Regions from separate parts of the Homo sapiens genome. Here region 1 is linked to region 2. Evidence: fine-mapped expression QTL. A gene starts in region 2. The other region holds a variant in brackets. All regions are shown on one strand. Distances are between the middles of the regions. Region 1 holds the start of LINC02408 (long intergenic non-protein coding RNA 2408). Region 2 holds the start of DYRK2 (dual specificity tyrosine phosphorylation regulated kinase 2).

The links. PIP is the estimated chance that this variant, and not a neighbour inherited with it, causes the effect.
Region 1: its variant is fine-mapped to the expression of DYRK2 in whole blood (INTERVAL, PIP above 0.99).

What each region holds. Positions count from the first base shown.
Region 1 is chr12:67,510,327-67,521,642 of GRCh38, reverse strand. LINC02408 (long intergenic non-protein coding RNA 2408) reads right to left here and starts at 1,561. Exons shown (of 3, transcript NR_103861.1): 1 at 1,451-1,561. RefSeq lists an enhancer at 1,235-1,900. The variant T/C (reference allele first, on the strand shown) is at 5,857.
Region 2 is chr12:67,643,255-67,654,570 of GRCh38, reverse strand. It overlaps DYRK2 (dual specificity tyrosine phosphorylation regulated kinase 2), which reads right to left and starts at 5,826. Exons shown (of 3, transcript NM_006482.3): 1 at 5,389-5,826; 2 at 4,626-4,774. The coding sequence starts at 5,437. RefSeq lists an enhancer at 3,304-3,353 and silencers at 4,434-4,823, 4,984-5,643, 5,654-5,953, 6,054-6,163.

The sequences.
Region 1 (11,316 bases), 130 kb after region 2:
ACTTAAAGAAAAATATTTGCCTTTCACGGTCAGTATCATCCCAGGATTTAACCTACTGTCTGCCTACAAGCTCTGGAGAATTAGAAACCAAGAATGAGACTGCATACCCATTACCCCTTACGACCGTGATGTCTTGAATCTAGTGACTCTTAACCTTGCATGATATCTTTTATATATTTAAGACTTCTATTTTTAGAATCATGATATTTATGTCTATTGAACTTAGAACTTATATTATTCTAAGAGTTCTTAGGTAATGATGATGACAGACATTCATTCACTTACTCCACAAAAATACTAGAGAGGCAACCTAAGGCAGTCATTCAGAGAATGGACTCTAGAGTCACTTAACAGTTTCTCCATCTATAAAATAGAGACAAACATAGGACTTACCTCCTAGGCTTGTTGCAAGGATTAAATGAATTAATATTCATAAAGCTTTCAGGATGGTGTCTGGCAACATGGTTAGTGCTCTAGGAGGGCTCACTACATAAGAGGAGATATTTAGTGGATGCCCACTGTGTACTTGATACTGTCCTAAGCACTGAAGATACTGTGGAAAACAAGACCCATACATGTGAAGGTGGGGACAGAAAATAGACAAGGAAATAAATGACATAATCCTAGAGTATTAAAGTATTAAACAAAGACATGCAACAGAGTGATTAGGAGCAGAGAGAGTTGGGGAAAAGCCTTTCTCTGAGAAGAGGCAATTTGAACACTGGGACCAGAGCACCCAAAAGCCACCAGGCATGTGAGGACTCAGTTAGAGGATTCCCAGCAGAGAAAACCACAAAAGCAAAGAGATACAGCCATGAAGCCAAAATAGCCCACTTGATCTCAGAAAATAAACCATCCAATTTAATGTGGGGAAGGCATATGAGTCAGACAGGCAAAGCCAAATTAAGCCATTCAGGAATCAGGCAAGGAACATATATCCAGGCGGGACCTCTTCACACTTGATGCCACAATGCAACGATACGTTTTAAATTCCAATGGAATTAATCTGCAAATTTTAATGGCAGGATTCAGGAGTAGGCCCCTTCTTTCACCGACTTACCCGTCTCCTCATTAATATTTCATATAATCTTCTTCATACTGTCTTGGAAGCAAGCAAGACAACAGACAGGGAATATTTCCCCCTATATGAAATGTTTTTGCTACATTATTTTGTCATACCAGGTGTCAACCACCTGGTCTACTGCCAAATCCACTGTACTATCTTAAAGGGTCCATCCTCATCAGGTTATTTTCATAAGCAAATAAATACATCATAAATGACAAATGCTAGGTTTTCTCTAAAGGAAAAAAAAAATCATTTATCTCTAGCCCTGGTCCCAGTCAGTATTTTGCCCACTTATTTTGTCTTATTTTGCCCACTTAGACCTGCTGCTTCAAGTCCTTTCTGCCATTGCTGAAGAAATGACATGAATTCAGACAAAGGAATTACCTGGTCCAATTGTGTCTATCTGAGACAGTCCTCAAATGCTAAGTTAACAGCCATCTAGGATCACACAGCTAAGGAAGGCTTCCCGCCGCTGCCTCCCCTGCCTTTCCTGCTGAGCCTGATGGATGAGCTTTTGTCTTTCTGGCATCCCAAGCCCTTCGCTTTGTTTCACTTTTGACAGCTATGCACCTTGCGGAGAAGCCAGCCAGGTTTGGAAACCAGTTTGGTCCTGACAGACCTGCACAGCGGGAACTCACCTATATATGCAGTGATCTGGGGCAGTGCCTGCCTGGGCACTAGAAAGTCAGACCAGGTTCCCAGAGAGCCCTAAAGGCAACCAGTCTAAACAGATACATCAATCTGCTCACTAAAGAATAAAGCTGGCTCTCCCAATATAATTACAGGCTGGCTGATTTATTATTCCAATCTTTAGTGCGTGGCAAGGTTAGTGTTATTTGTGCCAGTTTATGGTATTGGGCCAAAACATGAAATATCAAGTTAATATGATTGGTTCCAAGAATGGATTTGCACAGAGACAGCTCCTGCTTATGCCAATGTGTGTGCAGGGATTACACCACGTGACAAAGCCCTTTTGAGAAGAAAATGACAATTCTTCATATATTCAGAATGATTTAATAGCTGGCAAGCTACTGCCAATCACCTGGGCTACTGCCAGATCTACTGAAATATCTTAAAGGGTCCATCCTCATTAGGTTATTTTCATAAGCAAATAAATACACCATAAATGACAAACGCTAGGCTTTCTCTAAAGGGAAAAAACCAATCATTTATCTCTAACTCTGGTCTCAGTCAGTATAAACATGCTAAACCCCACATGGGAGAAGAACACTTTGTAAGAAGTTGTGGAAGGCCACGTGAGATCATGGTCCAAGGACACTGGCTTTGGAATGGCAGAGACCAGGATTCGAATCACAGCTCCTTCACCTGACAGCTCCATGTTCTTCATCACATTTCATAACCTCTACAAACCTCGGCTACCTCATCTGAGAAATGGGAATGATATGTTGTTACAGGGGGTAAGTGGCTCCAGCTCAGTTACCTGGTATAAGTGAGGCATTCAATAAATCAGTGTTTCTCAAAATGACAGGAGTGTGATGATAAGTCTTCTAGGTTTGGAAGTTCTCTGTGGAACATTATTACATTTCTGTTTACCTTTCAATCAATTTAAAAATTAATATAGCCATATTACGGATCAGCTGAAAGATCTATTTGGATTCAGTTTGGGAACTCAATTCATAATCTGTGTTTATGATTACAATTGGTACCAGATGGTACTACTTGAAGTGTCATGAGCTAGAGAAAATAGAAGGAAATCAGAGTTGATATAAAGGAAGTGTTTATGCCAAGTGAAAGCCCAGGATGCCTTCAGGTTGTGCACATAAATGTCCTAAGAGTTTAGAACAGAGAAAAGTGGTATAGGAACTGAGTGAGCTCACAGCACTGGTCCTACTGGCACCAAGAAGGCAACATATCTGCACCATAGCAATGAGCAACAGTTAAATTCACTAAACAATGCTTGTCACATTTCATCAATATATAATTGTGAATTTTATTGGTTTTGTTGCTTTTTTTTTTTTTTTTTTTTTTTGAGAAGGAGTCTCGCTGTTGCCAGGCTGGACTGCAGTGGCACGATCTCGGCTCACTGCAATCTTCACCTCCTGGGTTCAAGCGATTCTCCTGCCTCAGCCTCCCGAGTAGCTGGGTCTACAGGCACACACCACCACGCCCAGCTAATTTTTGTATTTTTAGCAGAGACGGGGTTTCACCATGTTGGCCAGGATCATCTTGATCTCTTGACCTCGTGATCCACCCACCTCAGCCTCCCTGTTGTCTTATTTTTAACATATAAAATTGTTTTGATGTTGTGGTTTGCAAGTAATAAAGCATTTGTTTTTAGGCCTTATAAAAAAGGAGAGACAGATGTAGATATATAACATATAGATGTACATCTTTATGTTATAAAGTACTTGTTTTAGGTCCTGTATATTTAAGTAAAGATAAAAACAATTTTTACCGGTAGATGTTCATGCAAATTTTTTTCTATAGAATGAGTTCATAGATTATTCAATTTTCAGAAACCCAGCAATAACTGGTCACTGTTAGTGTAATTATTATGAAGGAAAGGATATTCCTTAAGGAATAAATGGTCATATTATTTTGAGTGTAAAAGCAGGCTATAATATTTGCATATACATTATATACACTGTTGAAAAATTATGTCCAGAAAAAATGACAACAATATAAAGGAATATACTGAATAATAGTTGTTACACATGGGTGATAAAACTGAGTGGTTTTTTTTTGCTATTTTAACTTGGCTTTAACAGACACAAATTTTATAATTCTAAAACACATGTCTAGGGTGTAAGGAGAGTGAGAGTGTAACTTGCAACTGAACCAAGCCGATTCCAGACTCGCAACTGCTGGGCTGGGGAAGCCCTGACATCCTAGCACTCACATCTCCGCGGCCTCAGTCCCTGGTTTCAAAAGGCTCCTACCCTGAACACTTCAGATCCCAAAATACTCCCCTGGTACCTCCAACAGATGTGATTTATAAGGCAAGTTTCTGTCTTAAAACACTTTTCCGGGAACCCTGATTCTTGTTGGTACTGGGGAGTTCCAGGAACGCTCTGTGCGGCCGTGAAGGTGGTCACCTCTGTGGTCTTCCCCCTTGGCAGTTCTCCACGGCCACCCTTGGCAAACGGTGCAATGGGGCTCTGTTGGTTTTCTTGTCTCTCTAGCACAGCACCTTTTTTGGCCGCCTCTTCCTTTTTTCTGGCATTCTTCCCCAAGCCTTAGTCATGGCACCACGCCCGAGCCAGACCTTCTGTGGCTGGGCTTCCGATGTTGTCTGCCACCCCTCAATACTTTCCTTGGATGACGTGATGGGAAACACCTACCTGTGCCAGCTGCACTCTTTAAGTGACTAAGGCTAATCTGGTTGCACAAGACATATTACACACGTACACACACACATACATATTATACATTACATACACACACAGGCACACACATTTTAGTACTCAGCCTACCCTAAACCATATAAATCTGTATCTTTGGAGGTGAGCCCTGGCACTGGCATTTTTAAAAGTTCCCCAGGTGATTCTAATGTACAGCCAAGGCTGCGAACTGTCAGGTCAATCGCAGCATCCTGGAGGCCTGAGAACGCACACTCTGAAACCAACGACCTGGAATTAAATCCTGGCTCTACCACAAACCTGCTAGCTGCATAACCTTGGGCAGTTTAATTCACCCTGTTCCCTCTGTTTCCTTATTTGTAAAGTAGAGAGGATGCTGATAACAATATCTACCCATAGTGTTGATGTGAGGATTAGATAAGACAATACATACTTAGAAGAGCCTAGCGCGGTGGGGCACAGTGGCTCACGCCTGTAATCCCAGCACTTTGGGAGGCCAAGGCAGGCAGATTGCTTGAGGTCAGGAGTTCGAGACCAGCCTGACCAACATGGTGAAACCCCACCTCTACTAAAAATACAAAAATTAGCCAGGTATGGTGGAATGTGCCTGTAATCCCAGTTACTCGGGAGGCTGAGGCAGGGGAATTGCTTGAACTCTGGAGGTGGAGGTTGTAGTGAGCCGAGATCGCACCACTGCACTCCAGTCTGGGTGACAGAGTGAGACTCTGTCTCAAAAATAAAAAAAATAAAGAATAGCCTAGCACAGAGCTCCATACAGACTGCTTCCTCTCTCTTATTGGTAATTATTTTTACTCAGCATCGTATAGTCACCTGGTTCAGGAAGAACACCAGGGTGGCAGCTTCAGGAATATAGAACAGGAGATTTCCTCTCAGGGCAGACTTTGTAAAGGTCTTGTTTCCCCCGAAACAAGATCCTATGAAAGATGTCCTGTCCTAAATGTGACCGTTGCTGCTCCCCAGTCCCTAGCAGGTGCTGCAGCTGAGGACACCCGGGGAGTGTCTGCTGCATCATCATCAGTGTGTGCATTTCAGCAACACTTGCCTGGATCTCATCTAAGAGATCCCAGAAGCTTTAACATGTGACTCTGACAGAAGCTTTGAATGTAATTACCAAAATCCATTTCTGCAGCTTGCTCACAGGTGGGCCTGGTTGTTGCAGGCCCACAGCAGCTGTTTGAAGCCTTTGGCACCCTCTCCCTGTCTCCGAGGGGGCTGTGGGACCCAGGCGGTTTGCTCATACCTGGACCGGCTTTTTCCTTCCCTCCAGTTTACTGACCCTTGCTGTAGAATAAACGCCCTCCCTCGCTCAATGTGCTGCACACCTGTTAGTGTTTGTTTTTCACTGACAGTGTTGATTTCGCATTGGACCCAGCAGAGGATGTGGTTACAGGGCCATGATAAGGGCTCAGAGCTGCTCTGTGGACAAGAGGAAAATGCCAAGTTGGGTAA[T/C]GAAAACTGAACCGCCCTGTGCTCTGACTTAAAAATATCTTTACCAAAATTATGAAAGCACCACAAAAGCAAAACAGAAAATAAACTCTCTCTCTCTCACCCACACTCAACCATCCCAGAAAGTAGTGTGGCATGTTGGAATGGGTACTAAACTCAGGGGCAAGAGTCCTATTGATACTTTCAGCTCTTTCAATGCCTCAGTTTCCTCCTATGTTCTGTGAATACTTCCAGCTCTCTCTGCACCATGAAGGGAAGGGTTTGAATGCACTGAACTTTATGGTCCCTTCTGGTACTCCACCCCCTTGCCCATCACACAGGCCAATGTGCCATCTCCCCGATGCACAATGCGTTCAATTACTGAGCACAAACCATGCAGCAGGCATCGTGGGAATTTCTGGGAGAGAAGGGAGATCAAGCAGACACGGTCCCTGGAAGCAAGTGTGTAAACAAAGAAGCACAACCAAGGGATTCATAAACACATGCTGGCAGAATGTATGTATAGGGGTGGCTGCTTTGCACAAATCAGGATCAGGAATTTTTTATAAAGAAGGTGATTCTTAAGTTGAGCGTCACGTAATGAATAAGTACTTGCCGAGGCAGGGTGGGGTGGAAAGGGCGGTGTTAAAGGCAAAAGGAAGGTTCAACAAAGGCTGAGTTGCAACACAGCTTGGTGGGCTGGAGAATTGCAGGACTCTCTGAAGAGTCAGGAGCCTAGATTGTGAGGTAGGTGTGGTGTGTGTGTGTGTGTGTGTGTGTGTGTGTGTGAAGAGAGAGGGGGAGAGAGAGGAGAGGAGGAGGAAGAAATAAAGAAAAAGAGAGAGAAATGCTGCTGGATACCAGAAGAGATGAGAAATAGCAGGAACCAGATAAAAAATGTATGATAAAAAGTGAGTTTAGAGTTTAGCCTACAAACGTAGTGAATCTAATGACAGTTTTAAGCAGTTTTAAGAATGACGCTATCATATTTAGGGCCCATGGAAACTTCATGCAAAATAGTTATATATGGGAATGATTAAGAGATTAGACTAGGTTCTCATCTCATTTGTCACTTTTTTTTTACACTGTTAGATAACAGATGTACAAGCAGTGGTATCCTATTTCCTTGCTTATTTCTTAAGCGACAGTACTTGAAGCTTCAGGACACAAGTTTACAAGTTGTTGGCTTTACTCTTCAGGCTTCTTTTTTATGCCTTTTCCATTTAGACAATGCAAATTAAGAAACTTCCAAAAAGCTTTCCAAGATTAATTCCATTGTATTCTTACCACTCCATTATCCTCCTTTCTCCAACTGTTAGGGATTTTTCTTCTGCCTTTTTTTTTTTCTTGCCTTGATTTTTATCTCACACATAGCTATAAAATTATCATGGAGATTTTATAACTCTATAATTTCAGGATAGTAAAGGCCACTAATATCTAAATGACTTAAAATAATATTCCCACACACTTAGCACACGCCTGGCATAGAGCAGATGCACAATTAGAAGAAAGCACATAGGCCGTAGGGTCAGAACATACAGGGGTTTCACCCTGGCCAGGTCATTTCATCATTAATGGTTCCCAGCAAGTCATCTTACTCTGAGCCTCAATATCTTCATCTGTAAAATGGAGCTAATAATATTGTTAAAGTATACATATAAATGCAAAATCCTGATCCTCCTACAGATATAAAATGAGCACATGCTAAAGATATTGTTTAACAGGCAAATGTTAAATTTGGTTCAAAGAAGAAGTAAAAAGAAACACAAATTTATATAAAGGAATGTTGAAATGAGTTTACAAATAGGCAGAAACTGGCTTTTTCTGTTGGGAGGGTTAAGGGGTGGAGAATTAAATTTAGTTCCATTTGGATACTATATATTTATGTATCTTACAGACAAGAATCACTTTCATGTAGGTTATCTATAACCATCAAAGGTAATGAAAGGCACCAAGTCCCCCATAGAATCAGAATGAGATAAACGGGAAAGGTGAGTGCTAAACAACTCATGGTTTTTCATGGAAGCCAAGCTGTTCTCTACCATGCCTAGCTGGCATCCTAGGTTGCTGGAAGGATTTAAGCTCACATATGTGCAGCACCTTCATAGTCTGTATAATGTACCAGTTGCCCAGCAAGTAATAACTGGCTTTGTTACTATTAATAGAAGCTATGAATGAAAATTACTTATTGGGTAAGGTTTTACTCATCCAACCAGAACGTGTATTCTTTTATTGCTATCATCTAATAGTGTGCAGTAGACTGTCCAGCACTGCTTGATACTTAGCATTAAATGACAAATTTATATTAAGGAAAATATTCTGATGAAATGTGAGATGGCTTTTTAAAACAATTAATGATTAACCTTCTGAGTTAGAAGAGATGGCAAGGGCAACTAAATGGCTGCTGCCATCACACTCTCTTTCTGAAAATCAGTGGGCCTTGGGTCCTATTACTGGAAAATGATGGTGGTTGAACACAATGCTGCTGCTTCCCCTTCCCATGAGAGACCAGTGTGAGTTCAGCTTAAAATGAGCATTTGCTTTACTCTGCTTCTAAGTCCTTATTCAAACTCAACTCTCACTGTTACCAATCAGATTTGCCCACTCTGCCTTCTATGACATCCCAGCAGCATTTTCTTCAAGGAACCAAGATCAGTTTATGATGTCACCATTGTTGCCAACAGTTTGATTCTGGATGCAGACTAAGACAAAGAAACTTAAGTTTTTGAACTCACCTCACTTCAAGTGATAAGGAAGCAAATACAGAAGGAGAACTTAGGAGAGTGAGCGAGTGTCTCTCTCTCGTGTGTGTGTGTGTATGTGTGTGTGTGTGTGTGTGTGGTGTGTGCCCATGATTAAATAGCAATATGCAAAACAGCTACCCAAAATTTAAAATGATGTTCCTCGCATAAGGCTGAAATAATTTTTCCGGTGGGAAAAGGCACATTGGGATGACATAGGAACAAAAAGTTGGGTATACATTGGAACTGCTTCCCGTTTTAGTGGTTTGGACACAAAAGTGTTTCTACTTGCCTGTTCTTTCCTTTTTTCTTTTTGAAAGCCTTTAATTTTAGAATTGTAACAAAAAAACCATCCAATTTTACTTAATAGTAGACTTGGCTTCTAATAACTTCAAAAGCTAGGGAAAGATAGAAAAAGTGCTTTTGATTTTCTAAGCTGGACCGAGTTTCTGGAGCCCCAACGTTCCCGTACCCTTTCGGGCATCCTACTTGGTACTTGAGAAAATGCTGACCTAGAGACAGACTTAACTTATTCCACCCTAACTCCCATAGTTGCTGTTAACTTTTCTGTGCACTGAAAGAGCTCTTTTGACTGGAGAGAAAAATGCTGTGAGAACAAGTATGGGTTGAGGTGGTGGCAAAGGAGTATCTTTGATCAGAAAGCAAACCTCAACTGTGGGTAAAGGCAGGACTAGCCTTTTCATTTAGGGGATTTCTACAATTATGTTATAAGTTCCTGAGAAACATCCATTCTGCCAAAAATAACTCTGCTTTGCCAGAGGATGCCAGAAATTCCACAATTTTTAGTTCAGTGACTCAAGCACCTGTTAATTTGCAAGGGTGCATGTATTCAATCCTTCCTCAAAGGCAGATATGATCATCTAACCTAGTGATTCTTAACCCTTCTGGATTATGGATGCCTTTGAGAACTTGAAGAATTCCATACCCCAGAAAAATGCACACATGCACTTTGTGAGTTGAACTTTTCTCCCATTGCAAACAACAGAAGCTAAGTTGTTTCTTAGCTTCTAATTTAAGCAAACTGGGGATTTAATGGAAGAAAATTGAGTGGGAGAGGAAATGGAGCTGCTTTGGGCACTAGATAGCAGGAACTAGTTCCTAGTGGGCACAATTTCTTTGTGTGCTGTCAGTGAAATGAATCTGACCAAGATATGTTTTCCTCTGGCTGTTAGACCATCAAGATTTCCCCAGAGGAACTCTGGCTCAGCTTAGACCCCCAGCCCCTCCATGGCTAAGGAGGTAAGGCTTGTTAGCTGATGTGCCACCAAGATAGAATAAGCTATGGAGAGGAGCCAGCCCTTAAAGGAGAAATCAGGGTCCTGGCATTACCAGGAGAGAAAGAAATGATGCCGGGCAGGCAAAAACAATAAATGCCCAATAAACACACTCGCTCACTCAGAATTCTTCATATTAGGTAAGTGGGGGAATCAGAAACCCCAGCTCTAAAAACTGGGGTCAAAAAGCCACAGATTAGCTACACCCTATGACCGATATTTAAATGCTCTATACAACATACCCTATTTCCTGAGAGTATGCTTGTTATTAGAAAATCCGGAGTTAAAGAGAAATTGGGGAACCTGATAGAAAAAAAATGAGGATGAAGATACCAAAAAGTGACAGGAAGCTAATAAAGAAGCTAGGGACAGTAAAACCATGGTTGGTTTTCCCATGCCTGACCCCAGATTAATGAATCTCTATGGAAAGATATATCTACTCTTATCCATGTCAGAGGCTCTGATACCAGTTATCTGCTGGACATGCATGGGGCTCACTGGCTTTCCAGTCCTAAAGAAGATGATTAAGAGAGACCTACTGTGTGTGGAATAATCCCCCAGATTGAGTGATGCTACAGAACCATGCCCCTGCGCTTGACTTCTGATTTCCCTGGTGTGAGTGCAGCACCTGAAGAAACCCATGATGGTGGGGGAGAAAGAGTCTCTTCCCCATCTCAGCAAGATGTCACATGGATCTAGATCTGAAGTGGCCTGGGAGGTATGCTCCAAGGACCAATGAACACACTGTGTTCAGTAACTGTGCTGTCAGTGAAATGAATCTGACCAAGTCATGTTTTCCTCTGGCTGTTACACCATCAAGATTTCCCCAGAGGAACTCTGTTTGGCTCAGCTTAGACCCCCAGCCCCTCCTTGGCTAAGGAGGTAAGGCTTGTTGGCTGACATGCTACCAAGATAGACTTCTGACTTCCCTGGTGTGAGTGCAGCACCCACAGACACCCATGATGGTGGGTTTCCTCTACTACTAATTGGAGCACATGGCTAGGGAGAGAAATGAGCTTTTATTGGATGACTTACCCATTTCAGACCTTTACAACTCCGTTCCTCAACAGGTGGTGCAGATACCTTGCGAGGCCCACTGTGATTTTCCCCTTGACTGCTTCTCCAGATGCATCTCAAGTGCCTCTCACTCTCACACACTCATATTCAGCCACATTGCCTCCTTTAAAACTCCTTGTCCTACTAGAAACCTCAGGGTTTTATCACATATTGTTTTCTTTGTCTGATGCGCCCTTCCCCAACTCTAGCTAACACCAACTTATTTTTCTTATTTATGGAAGGGTGGAGGCTCCATCTGTCTCATTTACTTTTGTGACCTGGGACTTTTGAGCCCAGGCCCATGTTAGGTAATCATTATATGTATGTTGAATGAATGTTGTTCAGCATTGTACAGAAGGAGAGGCGCTCTCAAGGATAAATAGTAGAAAATA
Region 2 (11,316 bases):
CAGGCCCTTTCCATCAACACTGCCTCATCTCACTCTCCTGATGTCTTTCACTGGGACAACTGAGGCAGCATCGTAACATGCCCCCTTGCTTCTAAGTCTAGAATTCCTCAAATCTCTTCTCCATAGTGCTTCTAGAGTCTGATTTAAAAGTCTCAACCTGAGACCACTCTTGCTTTTGCCCAAGGCCTGTGGCTGTAACCTATTTCCATAGCTAATGCAAGAACTTACCAGTAAGAACACAAGGCTCTAAAATGTAGAGGCTAAATGATCGGAGTCCTTCCATTCTCATCAACTACTGTCACTCTTCTCTCCAAGAGAACAAAGCTAGATAGCCCAGGACCCAAAAAACACCACACACTTTTACACTCCTCTGCTTTTAGTGAGGTCAGGTTTCATAATGGTAGATTTTCAGTTAGACACACATTAAATGATCCAGCTCCACCATTTACTAAATGTGTGACCCAGGGCAACTTATTTCATCTCTGTTAACCTCAGTGCCCTTGTCTGCAAAAAGAAGGTAACAAAGTTACCTCATTAGGGCTTTTAGGGGGATTAAATAAGGTAATATGTGTAAAGTGCTTAGTAGTCAGTCAATGAGAGCATTATTATTGTCCTTTCCAGATATTTCTTGTAATCTCCTTTCTCATACCTAGGTGATTCACCCTTTTACTTATTTCTCTTTATTGCAATTGTTTTAACATCAGATGTACTCATCTGGCTGTGAGCAATTCCAGGGCTGGGTCCCCTCTTATGTTTCCAAGTCCTCATTAACATAAACCCAGGCATATAGTAAGCCCTCAATAAATATCTTTGGGATGGAAGAACACATGCCAATAGATCCTCCTTGTTAACTCTTGCCTCTCTTGGAGTTGTTCCTGAGAACTACATTGTGTACCTTCATAAGGAAACATGAAGTCAAGGCCCAGGGAATTAAGAAACGTCCCTGGTGACCTAAGTCACAAGACGTTAGGCTTGCAGTGGATCCGCACAGACTTGGAGGCCAAGGACCTCCAAGCATAAAGTACCTGTAGCAGACACATCAATCAAACCATGTATAAAACACTTGCAACAAACACATCAACCAAACACCTAAAAGCAACACATGCAATCTTAAAAGCTTTCCAGATGTTAGAGATTCATTTGAGAAGCTCTAGCAAAAGAAGACTTTGAATCTCAAACATTGCAGGACTCTAAAATCACAATCAAGCTCAAAAGCACAATTAACTGACTTATAAAAAATGGGGCAGAGAGCAGGGTGGGGGTGCTGAGGGACTAGAAATGCCAGAACATTTCCAGAATACGTATGTCAAGACTACATCATAAACTTAAGGATACTAAAAACCTCTCCCTCCAGCTCAGCCTCTTGAAGTCTGAGATCATGGCTTATTCCGATATGCCAATGTATAGCACAGTGTGTGTCACATTTAAAAATACATACTGAGGCCGGGCACAGGGGCTCAATCCTGTAATCCCAGCACTTTGGGAGGCTGAGGCAGGTGGATCATTTGAGGTCAGGAGTTCATAACCAACCTGGCCAACATGGTGAAACCCCATCTCTACTAAAAATACAAAAATTAGCCAGGCATGGTGGCGGGTGCCTGTAATCCCAGCTACTTGGGTGGCTAAGGCAAGAGAATCGCTTGAACCCCGGAGGCGGAGGTTGCAGTGAGCCGAGATGGAGCCACTGCACTCCAGCCTGGGCAACAGAGTGAGACTCCGTCTCAAAAAAACAAAACAAAACAAAACAAAAAATAAAAACATAATACAATTGTTAAAATAGCTACAATTTATGGGTTCGAATTGAGAGACCTGCAAAGGCTTCTTTGATCATCAAGTACTTTGGTATTAAATATTATATAAAAACAATAGTCTAACCAGTTTGGTAGTTTTCATTTCTTCCAATAAGAAAATGGCAAACAGCAGATATTCCACTGTGATAATAGTCTTGGGCGTTTAAAAACTTTTCTGAAGTCATCTTAGAAATGCTGTATAGTATTATGGTAATAGAATTGAGTCCAAAAAGACTGGAATTTTAGCTCCTCCTCAAACATTCTGACAGTCTGTGTGGCCCTGTCAGAAAGAAAAATGTCTACTTTTTCTTCTTCAAAATACTGCCATTTTTTAAAATGTGTATTTCAATTTGAATTATTTTATAAAGGTAAAACTGATAACTGGAGTGTTTTACATAGTAAAACAGTTACAAAAGTTATACATATTTTAATATTTTTGAATTTAAAAATACTTCTATTAATAACTACCAATTAACATTAATAGAAAAATAATAGGAAGTAAGACAGTGATTGGGCACACTTCTCTCTCTCACACAAACAGAAATAACTAAAGTGTAAAACAACTTATACATGGAGATATAAAACAAAAGGGCAATGGTCTAGATAAATTCCAAAGTTTATAATCTTTATAATCATATATTTAACCTGCCTACTATATCACCTGTAAGAGAAAATGTGGGCAAGCTCCTATGACAAGATCATTTTTATCTCCTTAATGCCCTCCCGCCCCCCATTCATTCTAGAAGTTCTTCCTAGGTGTAATTACTCTGGAAATAATAACTAAAAATTTATAAAAATCTGACAGACATATGGGAATATGGATCTACAAAGGTTCTTGCATTTATAATGAGGCTAGTACAATTTCCTAGAATTAGCAGTCTCCATCAGTATATTAAAACTAGATGCAGGAGGATGTAGGCTTTCACTCTGGCCTTGATATGAACTGGCTGGGGAATCTTGATGAAACCAGTTACCTTGTCTGAGTCTGTTTCCTCATCTATAAATTGAAAGAATAGAACCAGATAAACTCTGTGGTCCTTGTAACCTTTCCTGTACTATGAAATCTGCTATGTTATAGAAATAAAATCAAAACTAAACCACCATCGAAACCCAAATTCACACCTTCAAAGTCAAGCATCTAATAATTAACAGCATACCGAAGTTTACACACACGTTAAAAACAAGTAAATCTGGCATATGCCACAGCAAAATACAGGCCTCCATTATGAGGAGTACTGAGAAGCACATTCGCATCCTTCCTTTTCTGGTGCACCACAGGCTCTCCCTCCAGTGGAGACTTGTCGTTTCATCTACTTTCATTACATGTATTTCAATTGCAAAGAGGCTCTGATCAAGCAAAGCCCATCCTTACAAAATTGGAATCCACATGCAAACCAAATAGTTCTTTTTCCAGCTCACACCATGTCATGTGATTACATCAACACATAGCAAAAAACTGGGTATTATATTTTCCAAATTGTCAGATGATCCCAAACAAAAAAATCCAAACCCCTAAAATCAATGGCAGTCCCTTAAATATCACTGTGACAAGAACACTTAACAGTAATATACAGAATCATCCATCCTACTATACCATCCACAGTCCAACACAGGTTAGTTAACCTCTGTGCAATGAATTCCCAGCCCCTGGGACCAGATGTGTCAGGATAGAGAGACAGACAGAGGGAGGGGGAAGATAGTAACAGCAACAAAACATTTTCCTACGAAACTTGCACACATCTCTCCAAGTCTAACAGGTGCAACTACAGTCTAGACATCCCCTCACAGTTCTCTGACAAACAAGTTTCCCCATAACATATGTCCCCAGAGCTACTCCCCTGTAGACCGGAGATGGCCTTTTCTTCAAGAACTCAACTTTCACTTAGCAAATAAAACCAATCCCTAGCAAGCCTCCCTCACACAGAACCATCTTAGGCTGTTCCTGTGGAAAATCCAATTGGGAAAAAAAGACCTCCAAACCATCACCTCCTCCAAGTGCAGACCTCCTCCAGGCTGGCCATCACCATCCAAGGGTGATCCCTGGGAGCTGAGAAAAGGTACATGCTTTAGTCGAATCCAGCTTGCCAGTCTCCGCAGCCACCAGCAACCAGTCCCACGCTGGCCTCTCCCCTCCCAGAGACCACAGCACCTGTTAGGTGCTTTTTCTTTCCCACCTCCAAAGCAACGCTTGCCCTTTCCTTTTGAATAATGTCCAACTGCAGAATCCTACAGGGGTGGCTTGTTTTGACTGCTGCGGCGGCCCTTATTTTTGTTAATGTTGATTACAATTTCTGCTGTGCTCAAACCTGTAGCACTCATAAAACATGCTTACACACGCGGGGGACAATTGGCGATGCTCCCTGCTGGCTGGAGCCAGGCCTGGGAGGCTCTTTGGGGGATCGATTTTCCGGGCAGGCCGGTCTGGCTGTCCCCTAACACGTATCTGTTTCTATAAATACCCACTACCCACGGGGAGGTGGGGGAAGGACAGAGATGTTTACCGGGTCAGGGAAGGGAACTCTGGGATGCAAGGACGAAAAATGAGGAAAGAAGGAAAGCAGCAAGGAGGAAGTTCCTAGGAAGAGGAGGTCATGGGTGGGCGAGCTCTGGAGGGGAAGTAAGGGGCCCACGCCACGAATCTTCCTTTGTGGCTGCAGCTTTGGGCTCGCCCAACTTAACCAGGGCGGCGTCGACGAGAGACCATCGGCCCGAGGCGTGGGGCTGCTTGTATCTCGACCCCTCTTCTCCCGGCGTCAGACCCCTCCAAGTCCGGGTGCTTCGGCCTGGGGCCCCTCCCGCCCCCACCGCCCGGGCCGCCCGCGGGCTGGGTCTCACCGTGTGGGCTGCGGCGGCAGCGTTGCTGGCCCGGAGAGGCGGCAGGGCGATGGGGGAGGGCGGGCCAGTCCCCACTCCGCTCCGGGTGGCCCCTGCACCGAGCCCCGGGGAAGCCTGAAGCTGACGAACGGCGCTGTCCCCACCTCGGCCTGGAAGCCACGTGCGGGAGGAGACAAAAGAGGGTCAGGGGGGAGAAAGTCACCCAGACCCCCCCTCCAACCCCGCTGGGCAGCGACAACCCTCTTCCAAAGAAAGACGGAGGAAGAGACCGGGGCAGTAAAAACGGGCGTTCGGGTCACGGCTCCCCAGCGCACACCCACGGGCGGGGCGCGGGCAGCTGCAAAGTTAAGTGGGGCCCTGGCGCGCGAGTTCGCGACCCGGCGGGGGAGCCGGGCCGCGCCGGGGCTAGGCGGCCCACGTTGCAGACGGCCAGCAGCCGGGAGGTGGGTTTGGACAGCTGAGCAGGGAGCCACGGCCACGCCAAGCCCCGGGCAGCGCAGGGCGGGGCGGCAGGCCTGGACGGTCCCCGCCCGGGCCCCCGGCAGGCAGAAGCCTCTTCGGGCCGAGGGCTCCCCGCGGAGGGGCCTTCGGGGCCGCGCACAACCCTGCATGGAGCCCGGGGCGCGTCGTCCGCCCGGGGGCTCCCCCGCGCCGCGCCGCCGACTTTGTTCGAGGTCCCGCAGGCAGCGGCCGCCCGCGCCACAGGGGCTGCCCAGGGCCGGCGGGGGTCCGGGGATGCGGCGCGGCGGCACGGCCTCCTTACCGGTCGGGTAGGCGGCGGGAGCGGCGGCCGAAGGTTTCCTGGTTAACATGGCCGCTGGAGAGGAAAATGCATTTCAGGGCTGCCGTCGCCGCCGCCGGTCCTGCTGCTACTTCTGGCGGCCGCCGCCGCCGCCTCCCGGCCGCCCCTCGCGCGGGTCCCCGGCGCCTCGTCGCCGCCTCGCGTCTGCTACAGCCAGACACACACAGTCCACTGCATCCCCTCGGCCGGGGCCCGCCGCCGCGAGCCCCCCGCTCTCCTCCTCGCCGCCGTCCTCCTCTTCCTCGGGCGGCTGCAGCACCCTCCGGCCCGTGCACATGCCTCGCCCTCCCCTGCGCGCCGCGGGCCTCCCCGTCTCCCTCACATAGGGGCGCGGGGAGCTGGAAGCGCTGCGAGGACCGAAGACCGCCTGGCTCGGGAGCCTCTCCCGGGCCCGCGCGCGCGCGCCCCCGCGCACTCACACACAGGCGCCGGCGCGCGGCCCCGCCCCCGCCGCCCTCCGCCGCCCTCCTCCGCCGCCGCAGGCCCCGCCCCCGGCTCCCCCGGCCGCGGCCACGCACACCCCACCCCCACCCAACCTCCCGCCCGGCTCCTCTCAGTCCCCCGGTTTGCGCGCAGCCGCCCCTCCGCTCCCCGGAAAACTCGGCGGCCTCCGCTCGCCCTCCTCCGCCCCCTCCGGCCATCTGCACTGCTTCCCTCGGCTCCACTCCGGCGACCTTTTCCCCTCCCCGGCCCCGCGGCGCCCCTTCTCTGCCCTACAGCTCAACCTACCGCTGCTGCCCTCCGGCCGAAAGCGCCGCAGAGACCCCTCCCCTGCCATGCGCACCCCTAAACATAAATGCATTTTCAGCTCTTCGAACTGAATGGCTGCTCACAGACAGTACTGCTTCCCCGTCCCCCCATTCTTGGTCCCAGCGACTTAGCCACTCCCCTCTCCCCAATTCATCATGTAGATAACTTAGTTGTGCGAGGGTCACCTCGGAGAGGCAAGTCCCGGGAGGGGCGGCCGCTGAGCTCGTTGACCCTGAGCAGGGGCGAAAGAGGGGGCTGCCCTCCCACCTCCACCACACACCCTCCCCGGTTTACTGACACCAAGTGACCGCTCGCCAGTCGCTAGGACAAGGGGAGGCAGAGAGGCGCGTGTGGACGGCAGCTGGGGAAGCAGTTGGCTGTGGGTTGCTAGGCAAAAATAAACATCAGAGACATCTCCTATTTCCTTACAACTCCGAGCCTTTCCCCTGCGCGGCCACTGGGAGAGACACACCTTCCTTTCAGCTCTGCGGTGAGGGAGCGACACCTCGAATTCCTCTCACCCCACCCGACACATCTCTTTCCCCCTTCCCTTCCAAGACACGTGGAGAATTTCCCTGCCTTTTTTATTCGCCATATACAACCTCTCTTTTCCTTGAAGACCAAAAAAAAATTGCTTTCCCGTCTCACATCCGCGCCTCGTCGTGCGTGGCACACAGTGCGCCTCTGTTCAAAGGTCACAGGTTTTGCCACTTCAACTGTGAGAGGAGGTGGGGTGGGAAAGCCCGACAAATCCCGGATGACGGGGCAGAGTTATGCCATGCACTTCCTTCTCGAGAGGTGCCTAGTTTCTGAAGTTCTCTTGGGGCCAGGGGTCCATTATGCTCTGCCCCGCCCGAGTATCTCTGGCTCCTGGCTGGACCTACTGTGCAGGCCCGAACTAGTGCAGACTCCAGTCGGAAGGGAGCCACCTCCTGCGGAGTTTCATCCACTCTACTGTTTGCAAATTGTCATAGCAACCTCCTACAGAGCGCATCCGCAGCTTTATACAAACGCCAAAAACTGTTTCAAGGTACAGTGTGACCCTCTCAGAGTCTCTGGGACTCCTAAAGAGGCCTCCAAGTTAGGGTCACTGGGAGAGGGAACCTGTGACAAAAAGAATTTTCCCTAGTATTACGTCCCTCCAAACAAAACAAAACAAAACAAAACAAAACAAAACACCCTTTCGGGGCCTTCTCCTAATAAAGTAGACCCACAGTAAAATAATCCAATAATATGCCTTTAGAGGAATCATGACCTGAACTGACCCTAGCAAGAAATATCCCCCTATGCTTGTCACTGGCGACCATCACATTTAAATCCACATGCGGAAGCATATTTAGTGTTTAGAATCGACTAAAAGAAAAGGGCTACTAAGTAGCAGAGATGACACTAGAACCGGTTTTCTGACTCCCAGTCTGATTTCACTATGACTTCCATCACACTACTTTCCTTACACTTTCAAGAAAGCTCACACCTCTTTTTTCTCCTTTCAAAACAATTATTTTCATACCATTTTCCTTTTTAAAATGAGTACTCCATACAACTGATGTTCAAATAAAAAAATGAAACAAAAAAATCAATTTTAATATAATATGACACCCCTTTTTGCTTAAGTTATTCGTACAATACTTCAGTAGAAGCTAAATATGCCACTGTTTTCTCATGAATAAAATAAATGCTAGTTACTGGAAGCCATAGTTTACGATTTCCAAATTAGTAATATTAATTTACTCATTTAACATGAGGAAAAGGAGCACTGATTCTTTTTTTTTTTTTTTTTTGACAAAGGATCACAATCATTAACTTTAAGAAAGAAAAAGACAATAGGGAACTTTTTGTAGTATATTGTTTTATATCATGACAAATATAATTTCAATTTTGTATATTTTTTGTGGCTTAACATAAGGAAATATTGCAGTTGACCTACCCCATAGCTATTTTGATTATAAATGGTACATCTTTGAAAATTATATTAATTTTTACTGACCTCTAAGTGACTATTAACCATTGCTTAGATTTTCCTCATTCTGTTAAATATTCTATTAAATATTGACATCTCCCTGAGTGAATGTTAAATAGAAAAGCTGTACAAACACACTCCTGGGGCTTTGGGGAGAGTGAAGTGGGTAAATTTGGGGAGTTATTTCCCTCAAATTTTATTATCATAATGCATCATTATCAATTATCTCATATAATTACACATATTTTGATCTCTTTATAAAACACTTTCACAAATATTACCATGTTTAATCTTCATAACTCCACCAGAGCAGATTTCATTTTAAATAGGAACCTCCTTAAAAGCTTCATTCAGTTAGCAAGAGACTGCTCTTTGGTTTTCACCCATTGTAAAAACTCTGTGTGTTCTATATGTTTAAAATCCAGATTCAGATAACAAGGAGGTAGGCAGGATCTAGCAGGAGTAGAGAGAAACAGGAGAACTCAGAATAGAGCCTTGAGGAAGAAAGTTGATTTTTCACTGGGCAAAGTACTGATCACAAGGAAAATTGGAAATGAACATAAAAATTGCTGGTTTCAAAACACATTTACTCATTTAATCCCCTTATCCCAGAAACATTTACAAAGAATTTAGTATGTGCTAGGCCTAGGAGACATGATGAATCATCAAATGCAGTAGACTACACTTCAGTCTGGCAATCTATTAGGAACTCATTCTTGTTTTGTTTTGTTTTTGTTTTTTTGAGACAGAATTTCACTGTGTTGCCCAGGCTGGAGTGCAGTGGCACAATCTCAGCTCACTGCAACCTCTGCCTCATGGTTCAAGTGGTTCTCCTGCCTTAGCCTCCCGAGTAGCTGGGACTACAGGTGCCCACCAACACGCCTAGCTAATTTTTGTATTTTTTGTAGAGACGGGGTTTCACCACGTTGGCCAGGCTGGTCTCCAACTCCTGACCTCAAGTGATCCACCTGCCTCGGCCTCCCAAAGTGCTAGGATTACAGGCGTGAGTCACCACACCTGTCCAGGAACTCATTCTTTTATTCAATTAAGCAATAAGCTATAAGAACCTAACATATTTTTGGCACCGTTGGTGGAATGTTATGGTCTGAATGTTTGTGTACGCCCCAAATTTATATTTTGAAATCCTAACCCACAATGTGATGGTATTAGGAGGTGGTTAGATCAAGTGACTGCAGAGAGTTAGTAGCCTTTTCCACCATGTGGGGACACAGAGAGCAGGCACCATTTATGAACAAGGAAACAGGCCCTCACCAGACACTAAATCTGCCAGCACCACGCTCTTGAACTTTCCAGCCTCCAGAACTGTGAGAAACAAATTTCTGTTTGTTACAGTTACCCAGGTTATAGTATTTTGTTATAGTAGCCCTAACAAACTAAGACATGGGGCTACACAGTTAAATAATCCCTGGCTCTGGTCACTGCTACTAGGAAGTTCACAGTTCCGTACGGGAGACCAGACATTTAATGAAGTGAAAAGAGTGGTAAAGAAGGCATATAGGAGTCACAGAGATAGCACACAGGAGAGAGGGACGAGCTCCACTTAAGTGGTGTCTGGCAGGGGCTGTGCTTCAGTGGAGGTTTTAAAGACGCGTGGGAATTTGCAAGTTAGGCGAGACAGGTTAGGACATTCCAAGTGGAAGAAATAGGATGTTCAGAAGCGTCAAGTTGTAAGAAAGCATGATGTGTCCCAGGGGAAGGGGAAGCAATTCAGAATAGAGGAAACTTGGGGTGCCAGGCAGAGGGGTGGTACTGCTATCTTCCTAGGGTTAGGTTTATGGATAGATCAAGTCAGGTTAAGAATTATCCTAAACTTGGCCAGGCATGATGGCTCATGCCTATAATCCCAGTGCTTTGAGAAGCTGAGGAGGGAGGACCAGGAGTTTGAGACTAGCCTGGACAACATAGCAAGACCCTGTCTCCACAAAAAAAGTAAAAATAAAGAAATATTCTAAACTTTATCTGCTATGGATATGTGAAAACAAGGTGCAGGGGCTTTTGGAGCAGCTAGATAAATTATTAAGGAACTGACTCATTTTGGTGAAGGTGGATCTAACTCCCTTTAAGAGAACACCAGGCCAGGTGCAGTGGCTCATGCCTGTAATCCCAGCACTTTGGGAGGCCGAGGCGGGTGGATCACTTGAGGTCAAGAGTTTGAGACCAGCCTGGCCAACATAGTGAAACCCTGTTGCTACTAAAAATTCAAAAAAATTAGCCAGGCATGGTGGCGGGCACCTGTAATCCCAGCTACTGGGAGGCTGAGGCAGGAGTATTGCTTGAACCCAGGAGGTGGAGGCTGCAGTGAGCCAAGATTGTGCCACTGCACTCCAGCCTGGGAGACAGAGTAAGACTCCATCTAAAAAAAAAAAAAAAAAAAAAAAAGAGAACACCACTAACTGGCGGTACCTTCTATGTCTCCATCACCAAGGTCCAGAACTACCTAGAAAAGAATATGAAGACCTTATGGCCTAAAGTCTACTAATGTAAACTTTTCAGAAGTAGGAGGCATGGCCGTCATAACCAAATGGCTACAAGGTATCTGAATTTGCCTCTGGAGTGTGGCTCTGTGGCCACTACTGGTGTGGAAATCAAGAGGAGATTTCTATACCGCTAGAAAGTTGGTGATATGAGGTGTTTGGGCAGGTTGGTTATATGTCGGTCAGGGCACTTGCAGAGCCAGTTTCCTCCATTCTAGGTTGGGGGGTACATTTGCCTCCTAAGGCAATCTAGGTATTTGGAAAGGCTGCAGAGTTAATTCAGCAATTTCTTGGGAACAATACATCTGACTTTTCTTCCAACTGCATCCTAAGGACAGAGTTAATGTTTAAAACCAGTAAGCAGGGAAAAGAGAAAGCTACATCCTGGAGATTGGAGTACTTTAATAAAAAGCTCATAGACAAAGCCCAGTGGGACCTCTGCTGAAACCTCTTCCTTTGATCCAGCAGGACAAATGTCAGAGGAGTGGTGTCCAGTATATCCAGGAGCTTCAAAGGGACAGGAGCGCCATGACTAGGTAGGGTCCCAGCAGCTGGCTTCCAGACCAGTCTTCTCAGGCTAGTGGCCACGCAATTGACACAGCTTATAAAGTAGGTGCCAGTGGAGTCAGCCTCTAGGAGATAAGCCCATGGGGCTGCACGGGGAGCAGCCAGCAAAGAACAGGC